Regions from separate parts of the Homo sapiens genome. Here region 1 is linked to region 2. Evidence: fine-mapped expression QTL. A gene starts in region 2. The other region holds a variant in brackets. All regions are shown on one strand. Distances are from middle to middle. Region 1 overlaps LOC105372666 (a long non-coding RNA gene). Region 2 holds the start of TSHZ2 (teashirt zinc finger homeobox 2).

Evidence for each region.
Region 1: its variant is fine-mapped to the expression of TSHZ2 in whole blood (TOPMed, PIP above 0.99).

What each region holds. Positions count from the first base shown.
Region 1 is chr20:52,449,618-52,455,001 of GRCh38, forward strand. All of the region lies in intron 4 of LOC105372666 (a long non-coding RNA gene), which reads left to right. Among named protein-coding and RNA genes, the nearest start is that of LINC01524, 170 kb to the right of the region's middle. The variant C/A (reference allele first, on the strand shown) is at 2,455.
Region 2 is chr20:52,968,938-52,974,321 of GRCh38, forward strand. It overlaps TSHZ2 (teashirt zinc finger homeobox 2), which reads left to right and starts at 3,421. Exons shown (of 3, transcript NM_173485.6): 1 at 3,421-4,396. The coding sequence starts at 4,357.

The DNA of each region.
Region 1 (5,384 bases), 520 kb before region 2:
GAAGCTTTAGCTAAGAATTTTTTTTTAAACAAAGGCACAAAAGTTTAAATCCTTTGCGCAATAGCAGTGAGATTGAAGTGACATACTGTTTTAACTTTTTGAAAAACAGCAATGCTCAAATAATCAGCAGGAGAGGGAATATTAGACAAGTAAATATGGAATATTATGCTCACAAGCAATAACTGTGTCTATTAAATATGCAAACCATGCAGCCTCATATGGATTTTTTTCATTACATCATTTTATAGGTATATGTGTGTATAAGACTGGGTATATAGTAAACTTTTATGAGTTAAATCATTTTTTCCATTAGCTTTTGTTGTAATTACCAAGATGCTTACTGTAATTTCTGATTGATCTTCAATTGGCACTACCCCATAACACTTTATCTTGAAAATTCTCTGCCTGTAGGCCTCTTAGTTAGGTAGTGAACGATTTATCTATACACCTTCAACATAATCAAGAGGTCAATATGTAAAGGGACCCATTTGTAAATGAAATAAAGCAAATAATATGGTGGTTATTTTTGTATTTAGATAGATTAGCAACATTGATTCTAATGAGAGGGACCTTCCTTTCTTTATAGCAATTGTACCATGCAGTGTTAGTTATGTGCTGATTTCTCAGTTTATTTCATGACTACCTTCCCACTAGAATGTAATTTCTCTGAGGACAGGAATCATGCCTTTGTTTTCTGTCTTTAAAAAAATTGTTTTAAAGTGCGGCAAAATATCCAGAACATAAAATGTACCACTTTAATACTTTTTGAGTGTATGCTTCAGTGGCATTAAGTATATTCACGTTTTTATGCTGTTATCATCACTATATCTTCAGACTTTTCATCTTCCCAAATGAAAACTCCATAATCACTAAACAGTAATTTTGCCTTCCCCTCCCCCCCCACTGGCTGACAACCATCATTCAATTCTCTGTCTCTCCAAATTTGACTATGCTAGATGTCTTGTATAGGTGGAATCATACACTATTTGTCTTTCAGTGTCTGGCTTATTTCACTTAGCATAATCTCCTCAAGATTCATCCATGCTGTAGCATGTGTCAAAAACCTGCCTTTATTTTTATTTTTTTAATATTTATTTATTTATTTTTGAAATAGAATCTCATGCTGTCGCCCAGGCCAGAGTGCAATGGCACAATCTTGGCTCACTGCAACCTCTGCCTCCCAGAGTTAAGCGATTCTTTTGCCTTAGCCACCCGAATAGCTGGGATTACAGGCATGCACCACCATGCCCAGCTAATTTTTGTATTTTTAGTACAGACGAGGTTTCAACATGTTGGCCAGGCTGGTCTCGAACTTCTGACCTCAGATGATCCACCCGCCTCGGCCTCCCAAAGTGCTGGGATTGCAGGCATGAACCACTGTGCCTGGCCACATGACTTTATTTTTTATAACCATGTGCCTGGTGTCTAGCTTAGCACTTGGATGTAGTAGGAATTAGGAGACCACAATATATCTTTGTTGAAGGAATACATGAAAGAATGACTCAGTCAGCCACATTGTATTCCCCTTCGTAGCCTTGGGATCAGGATGCAGTAGGTCCTCTGTAATTCTTTGGGGAAGAAAAGAATTATTTGGCTTCCTGATTTCTGAAGCAGAGCCCAGGGGGCAGTTGAGATACTTTTGGAACATGAAAAACTCGCCATTTCCCCTTGCCCGTGATGTTTGAATCCAGTGTATGAAAAGGAAATCTGTGGCATCTTTTCTCGAGCTTGTAATTTGGGTTGCTTTGTGTTCACTGCTAATTAACCAGTTGGTGATGTGCTGTTTGTCTTTTCGTCTGCCTCTGAGCTTGTAAGGAGTCAGTGACAAGCCCAGTGAAACTGAGGGGCACTCAGATAATTAAGGTTTGGAGGGCTTCTTACCAACCCATTGATGAACCAATTGCTTCCTCTGCCTCAATTGATGGGTAGCTGACACATGACGTTAACAGTGGCTTTCTCTCATATACACAGCAGCAGGAGACTTTCCCACCTTTTAATGGCTGAGCAAACTTCATCCCAGGCAACCCTGGCAAAATGAAAGTGTATTGTCAAAGTTACTTGTGAAGATGACTGTGTTTAGACTAGAAGAAAAGTCTTGATACATCAGAATTGCCACACACGCGTGCTCACACAGTCTTTATTATTAACATCTAAATGCAAAAAGTAATACAAAGCTTTATTTAAACATTTAAATGTATAAGGAGAAATGACTTTGTGTTCTATATTGTTCTTTTGTGTGTGTGTATGCCTGTTTTTATCCTTTAAGAAACAACAGTGATAGAGTATTGAGTAGTTTCTTTTCTTTTTTTCTTTTTTGAGACAAGGCCTTGCTAACCCTGGCTGGTTTGCATTGGCGTGATCACTACTCATTGCAGTCTCAACCTCTCAGGCTCAAGTGATCCTCTTGCCTTAGCCTCTCAAGTAGCTAGGACTACAGGTGTGCACCACCACACC[C/A]AGCTAAGTTTTTATTTTTTGTAGCAATGGGGTCTGGCTATGTTTCCCAGGCTGGTCTCAAACTCCTGGACTCAAGCAATCCACCAGTCAAGCCTCTTGGAGCGTTGGAGTTATAGGCTTGAGCCACCTTGCCCAGTTGAGAAGTTTCTCTAAATCTGATAACCTCCTCCTGTATAGAGTCTGTGTCTGTTATGCAAAAACATCAAATAATTGAATGTCATGTGTGGGCGGCTCTACACCTCCTTACCTGTGCTTATCTTCTGCTTCTTTGCCTCTTTTTAATCCAGCGTAGTTTGGAACCAGCAGCAGCAGCAGCTCCCCAGACCTACTGAATCAGAATCTACATTTTGATAAGAGCCCAGGGTGACTCCATGTACGTGAAAAAGTTTGAGAAGTCCTTAGACCTACAGTTCACAGCTTCTCCTTCTTTCTTATTCAACTGAATTGCAGTGGGACCTGAGTATGGTTAAAATAAATGAATAAAAACACAAATCAATTCTTGGGTGAGTCTCATGAACAATCAAGATTAAGAACCACTGACCTTACTCCAGTAAATGCCTTGAGAACCCTGAGGGCAGGGACGCTGTCTACTGTGTTCTTTCCTAGGAAGGTGCTTGGAATATAGTAAAAAAAAAAATTATTTATTGAATGTATTATTATACAAAACCCAAGGCTCAGATGACCTTGGGGCAGTGTCTTTTTCCATGTTCAGACCCTGAAGGAGATCAACCTGCCTGTCTGCTGACCCTGCTCCCGTAGCTGGGCAACAAGTTCTTTGAAGGTAGATCTAGGTGGCCCATCTTGGTGTCCACCACAAGTGGTTAACAGTCAAATAGAATCATGTTTTAGGAGGCAGGCTCTAGAATTTGACTGCCTACCTTTCATTTCTGGACCTGCCACTCCCTGGCTGAGTGACTTTGGCCAGTTATTTATCTTCTTCCTGGGTGATATGGTTTGGCTCTGTGTCCCCACCCAAATTTCATCTCCAATTGTAATCCCCATGTGTGGAGTGGGGGGACCTGTAATCCCCACGTGTTGAGGGAGGGAGGTGATTAGATCACGGGGAGGTTCCCCCATGCTGTTCTTGTGATAGTGAGTGAGTTCTCATGAGATCTGATGGGTTTATGAGGCAGTTTTCCCTGCTCTTGCTCACTCTCTCTCTTGCCTGCTGCCATGTAAGATGCGCCTGCTTCTCTTTCTGCCTTGATTGTAAGTTCCCTGAGGCCTCCCCAGCCCTGTGGAACTGTGAGTCAATTAAACCTCTTTCCTTTATACATTACTCAGTCTTGGGTATATCTTTACAGCAGTGTGAAAACGGACTAATACACTGGGTCAGTCTCCTTATCCATAACATACTATCAATTATACCCACCTGATAAAGTGATTTGAGACTATAGTGAGAAAAATAGATTTAAGGCACATATTGGGCACTTAATTAAGGTTAGTTGTTATCGTTCCTATTATAATGATATTTTACATAATATATAATTAAAAGTTTATAATATTAAATCATGTTATAAAAATAGATTCTTCTTTTGCTTGTGTGAAGAAACAAACTGGGATGATAAAATGTTAGAGAAAGGGCAGTTTTATCCATACTAAAGATAATAGAGATATTATTTTCCTCTTCTGTGTGTGAGAACCATCTTTGTCTCCTTACACACTAGACAGGATACATTTGTTTGTGGTCTGTGTGCATTTTTCCTTCTTGTCAGAGCAGCAAGAACTTTGATTCTTGCCTTTAAATGGGATCTTTCGGGAGATGATATGATGATAAGATTTGTAATTTGCCCCGTCTCTATCCTTGCGGGATCTTGGGTTCTGCTCCAGCTACGTCAGCTCCGTTTAACTCAATGATCTGGTGACATCTTTCAGATCTCAGAAGGGCTCAACAAATGCCACCACGGAGTTCAGTAGTGAAGACACAATGCCAAGATTAAGCAAGGTTGGGTTACATTTGTAAATGTAAAGGCTCAAAGCTTTGTTTGAACAAATCAGTGCAATAGATCTTAGGTAGAACAGAGTTCTAGCAGAACTGTGAAGTTTCTAAAAAAAAAAACAACAGAAAACCCACACCAGTGAGTGTTAAAGTCTCATAGGAATAATTCCATTGTGGCTAAGTGCGGTGGCTCACACCTGTAATCCCAACACTTTGGGAGGCTGAGGTGGATGAATCATTTGAGGTCAGGAGTTCAAGACCAGCCTGGCCAACATGGTGAAACCCTGTCTCTTCTAAAAATATAAAAATTAGCTGGGTGTGGTGGTGCATGCCTGTAATCCCAGCTACTCGGGAGGCTGAGGCAGGAGAATTGCTTGAACCTGGGAGTCGGAGGTTGCAGTGAGCTGAGATCGCACCACTGCACTCCAGCCTGGGGACAGAGCGAGATTCTGCCTCAAAAAACAAACAAACAAAAAAACTAAAACAAACAAACAACAACAAAAAACCCCAATTCCATTGTGTGGTGATGATAATCATCATCATTGGCTCTTTTTTCCCATCTCCCTTGTGATAATAAAGCTCAAACTCTGTATAAGCTAGGATTATGGTATGCTGTGCACAAACCCCCAAAACGGTGACTTAAAAACAATATAATTTTATTTTAGTCTCACAGAAATAAAGGTCCAACTGATTTGGCAGCTCTGCTCTGAAACTCTGTTAGGAATCCTGGATGCTGCTATCTCATTTCTTTCTATCCCTATGATGTTGCCTTTGCCTTCATGACCCGGGATTGCTGCCATTGTGGTTTGCATTCCAGCCAGCGGGAAGGGAGAAAGAGGTCAGAACTCTCTTCCTTTTAAGGGCAAAATATACAAGTTGTACATGATCACTTTTATTCACACATCTTTTAGTCATGCAGTCCCACCCAACTGCAAGCAAGACTGGGAAATCTGGATTTTTTGTGGCCATGTGTTCTGCTAGAAACTCAATT
Region 2 (5,384 bases):
ATTGAACAGGACAGCCCCTCCTAACAAAGAATTATCAGACCTTCAATGTCAATAGGGCCTGGGTTAGAAAATCTTGCTCTAGGGCAAGGACCAGGTACGTGCATCTTAACAAGGGCCTCAGGAGATTTTAATGCGGAAGCAGAAGCCTTACACGGTGTCTTTTTGATACAAGGGCTTCAGTATCAGAGTTCCCTTTTTGCCTACCCGTTTGTTATATGTAAGACTCAGCTTTGACTTACCTCTTCCCTTGAAGCCCCGCCTGGTAACCATCCTTCCTTTCGCCAAGTTCAGGGTAATCACTCCTCCTAAGAACACCTTCACCACATACTTATAACCAACTGATCTTTGGCAAAGCATATAAAAACATAAGTTGGGAAAAGGTCTATTCCAGTGTTCTCCAGCCTTTTTTTCACCAGGGACTGGTTTCATGGAAGACAATTTTTCCATGGACCAGGGCAGGGTGGATGGTTTTGGGATAAAACTGTTTGACCTCAGATCATTAGGCATTAGATTCTCATAAGGAGTGTGCAACCTAGATCCCTTGCATTCACAGTTTACAATAGAGTTAGAGCTCCCATGAGAGTCTAATGCCCCTGCTGAAGTGACAGAGCTCAAATGGTAATGCTTGCTTACCCCTACCTGCTCACCTCCTTCTGTGCCACCTAGTTCCTTACAGGCCATGGACAGGTGCTAGTCCATGGTTCAGGGGTTCGGGACCCCTGCCCTATTCAATAAATGGTGCTGGGAAAATTGGATAGCCACATGTAGAAGAATGAAACTATCCCTGTCTCTGACCATATATAAAAATTAACTCAAGATGGATTAAAGACTTTAAACATAAGACCTGACACCATAAATATTCTAGAAGAAAACCTAAGAAAAACTCTTCTGGACATTGGCTTAGGCAAAGAATTTCTGACTAAGCCCTCAAAAGCAAATGCAACAAAAATAAATAAATAAATGGAGCCTAATTAAACTAAAAAAATTCTACCCAGTAAAAGAAACAATCATCAGAGCAAACAGACAACCTACAGAATGGGTGAAAATATTTGCAAACTATGCATCTGACAAAGGACTAATATCCAGAATCTACAAGGAACTCAAACAAATCAGCAAGAAAAAAAAAAAAATAATCTCATTAAAAAGTGGACAAATGACGTGAATAGACATTTCTCAAAAGGAGACAGACAAATGGCCAACAAACATAATGAAAAAATGCTGAACATCAATAATCACAGGGTAAATGCAAATTAAAACTGCAGTGAGATAGCACCTTACCCTAGCCAGAATGGCCATTATTAAAAAGTCAAAAAACAACAGATATTGGTGTGGATGTGGGGAAAAGGGAACTTTTATACCCACTGCTGGTGTGAATGTAAATTAGTACAATCTCTATGGAGAACAGTATGGAGATTTCTCAAGGAATTAAAAGTAGATCTACCATTTGATCCAGCAACCCCACTACTGGGTATCTACCCAAAGGAAAAAAAGTCATTATGTCAAAAAGACACCTGCAGGCGTATATTCATTGCAGCACAATTGCAAAGATATGAAATCAACATAAGTGCCCATCAACTGATTATTGTATAAAGAAAATGTGGTATATATATCTATATATGTGTATTTGTGTATATATATGTGTGTTTGTGTGTATATACACACATATATATACACCGTGGAATACTACTCAGCCATAGTAAAGAACAAAATAATGTCTTTCACAGCAACTTGGATAGAGCTGGAGGCCGTTATTCTAGGTGAAGTAACTCAGGATCAAAAACCAAATACCACACGTTCTTGGTTATAAGTGGGAGCTAATGCATGGGTATGCAAAGGCATATGGAAAGATATCATGGACATTGGCAACTCAGAAGCGAGGAGTATGGGAAGGGGGTGAGGACTGAAAAACTACCTATTGGGTACGATGTACACTACTCGGGTGACGGGTGCACTGAAATCCCAGACTTCACCACTATGCAATTCATCCATGTAACCGAAAACCACTTTTACCCCTAAAGCTATTGAAATAAAAAAAATAATAAAGCAAAAAAAAACACCTCTAGTCCCAGCCTGCATCAAATGCCCTCAGTTGCTTTGCCCTCTCACTGGAAGGAGCACTCCTTGAGGGCATGGTCTAGGTTCACCTTGTTCACAGACTTGCCCCCAACACCTCAAAAGGTGCCTGGCCGATAGCAGAACTCAATAATCACATGTTTGTTTCAATCTCTCTGTGCTCAAATGCCATATCCTACATTGAATCTAGAGCCACCCACCCCCTTTTAGACACTATTACAGCACTCAGCTTAACGTCTTCATGGAGCGAATCACTCAAAGTATCCTGTTTATTTGCTTGCTTACTTTTCATTCATTCAACAAATATTTTACTGGGCACTTATTATATGTCTTGTGCTTTGCCAGCACTTGGGGATATAAGAGAACAAAGAGGCAAAAATCCTTCCTTCCATTGGAGCTTACATTCAAGAGGGGAACTTGTACAATCAACAGAATAGAAAACTGTCTATAACCTGTGTGACACTCACTGATCAGCTCACTGGGGAATAACAAAATGGAGAAATGGGGCAGGGAGTGTGTGTGTGTGTGTGTGTGTGTATTTTAGGTGAGGTAGACCTTTGGGAAAAGGGGACATTTAAGCAAAGATTGGATAGCTGGGGGGCACTTGTCTGCACTCCCCCATTAGAATATAAATACCAACATGGCCACCACCTTCCCTTTCTCTGTGGCCTCTGTGTCTCCAGAATAGGCACATAGTAGATGCTCAATAAACATTCTTCAAAGGAAACAAAAAGAGGAGTATATGATTAGACCTTAAAGTAGACAGAAGGGAGATTTTTGTTTTTGTGACCACCCATTGATTAGCGAGAAAGTGGGAGGGACAGGGGCACTAAATTGAAGGGGTCGTGGGGAGCACATTTTGGTGGGGGCAGGTTAAGACTTACAGGATGGAGATCCTCACTGGATAAGGTCCCCTCCCCCTTCCCAGCCCCGAGCAAACCTAAGTTCTCCCTCTCCTAAGATTGTGCATGGTCCCTGCTGGTCAGCCAACCTGGCCCCCCTGAATCTCCCTCCACAGCCTCCCAGCTTCAGAGTTCAGCCATCATCACACTGCCTCCTTTTCTCCCGCACCCCTTCCCTCCTCACCTCCTTTCCTCCCGCCCCCGCCCCTTCCGCCTCCCGGAGGGGTGTCCCCGCGCCCGGTGGGCACGCCCTCGCCCCGGCGGAGAGGGCGCACAGAGGGGCCTGGGCCGGCGCGCCGGGGCCCCCGCCCCCAGCCCCTCTCCCCTGCGGGACGCTGTCCCTTTAATAGGCTCCCGCTGCCTGGCGCTCTGCGGCTGGGGAGTAAATTTCTCCCTGTCATCAGGTCGCGGGGAGAGGAGGAGGAGGAGGAGTTTGTTAATGTTCAGTTTGTTCAGCGGGATCGATGTTTGCTGGCATCGCCTCGCCCTGTCTTGTGTGTGTGTGCGAGGGTGTGTGTGTGTGTTTGTGTGTGTGTGCATATGTGGGGGGTGTGAGTGTGTGTGTGCGAGGAAGCGGGGGTGCGTGCGCGTGTGAGTGCGTGTGTGAGTGTCTGTGTGTGTGTCTGTGTGTGTGTGTGAGTGAGTGAATTCCAGATTTTCTGTCTTTCCAAAACCCGCTCCTGTCCTCTCGCATATCACTCACAGACGGGGATCTGACAGCAGCCACAAACCTACAGTGAGTGATCGCTCTCCCCCCGGCACGAATCCGCCATAGAGATCGGCGAGGAGGAGGAGGAGGAGGAGGAAGAAAAGAAGGAGGAGGTGGAGGAGGAGGTGGAGGAGGAGGAGGAGGAGGGAAAGAGGAGAAGGAAGAAGAAGAAAAAGAAGAAACCCACTACCTTCCCAGGATTGCCTTTTTTTTTTCCTTATCTTTACGCGCGAGTGTGCCTGTGGCGCGTGTGCGCCCCTCGTCCCTTCCATCCGAACCCGGGCTTGGATGTTTAATAAAGAAATCAAGTGTCTCAACAGTCACCAAAAAAAAAAAAAACCGCAAAAACAAAACCAAAAAAATTCCAAAAGCAAAAACAAAAAAGAGAGAGGAAAAAAAATTCAAAATAAACAAACAAACAAACAAGGCAGAACCAACCTCTACTTCAAAGCAGCCGGCACAAGCCACCCGTGTCTGCCACCCAGAGAGGGGGGTCTCTGGCCCGTGGTGGAGGAGTTGCAGGGGGGATCGTCAGGGGGACAGAGGCCGAGTGACGTCCTAGGAGCCACCGGGCAAGAGGCGGAGGAGACCCAGAGAGGCCAGAGAGACAGCGGGCCCCAGCGCGCGGCTCGGGGCTGGGGCGCCAGAAGTGGGACTGGAGCGAAGTAGAGGATGCCGAGGAGAAAACAGCAGGCACCCAAGCGGGCGGCAGGTAAGAGAAACGGCTCCGCTTCGGGGCTGCCCTGTGCGCCGAGCTCCTCGCCCGCCCTCCTTGCCCCTGGGTGCCCGGGGGCACCACCCACTTAAGCTTTCGGGGGAGTTTGCGCCGGGTGCCCTTCTAATAACCCCGTCCTCTCTCGCCTTCTCTGGTCTCCCAAATCCTCCCCTTCCAAGCTCCGGTTGGGTTGGGGTGAGCTATCCCACCAAGCCTTTCCTCCTTAAACTTTCTTTCCTCCACCCTCTACCCCACCCCTAACTTTCTTCCAGTCTGTTTCTTGCCTCTCGGGCCAAAGTCGGATTGAGGATTTGGGGTGCGGAGTAGGGAGACAGCCCCTCCACCCCTGCATCCCTCTGCGTGGTCAGTGCCAGTGGCTTTTGGCCTCCAGGGATAGCGTCTCCTCTCACTGGGGCTTGGGGCGCTGAAGTGTGAGGCATACCTAACACTCGGGCTGCAGGCAGGCTTTGGGGCCAGCAATAGGAGTTTAGCGTTGATCACCAAGGTGGACAAAATGCCCCCAGGAAATGGATGACTCTTTGCATATATTTTCTAAAAGGATCCATATTTGGAAATGTAATTAACAATTTCCCTATTCTTTAAAAAAACCAAAAAGGGTTGTAGGGGGGAAATTCCCCATAGAAATTTAAACAGCTCTGGATTTTCTTTGCCTAGAGAGTTGCAAACTTTGTGAAATGATTCGTACTGTAAAAACTATCCCATCTGAATCCTTACTGCCCCCTAAAAAAGATAAGAACAGGTTAATGGATCAGTACAATAGACCTTCTAAAGTTTTTTTTTCTTTTGGGTTGCTTAATTGCTTTTTTAATAGTATGCTGGGGTTTTGTTTCTCGGAAATGTAATATGAAAGTTCATTTTTCTTCTGCCAGACCCACCCACTGAAAAATCAGCTTTCCACTTGATTGCTAGTTTTGATTTGACATTTGATTGATCACCTGTCATCTCGCTGCCTTTGATCTATTCA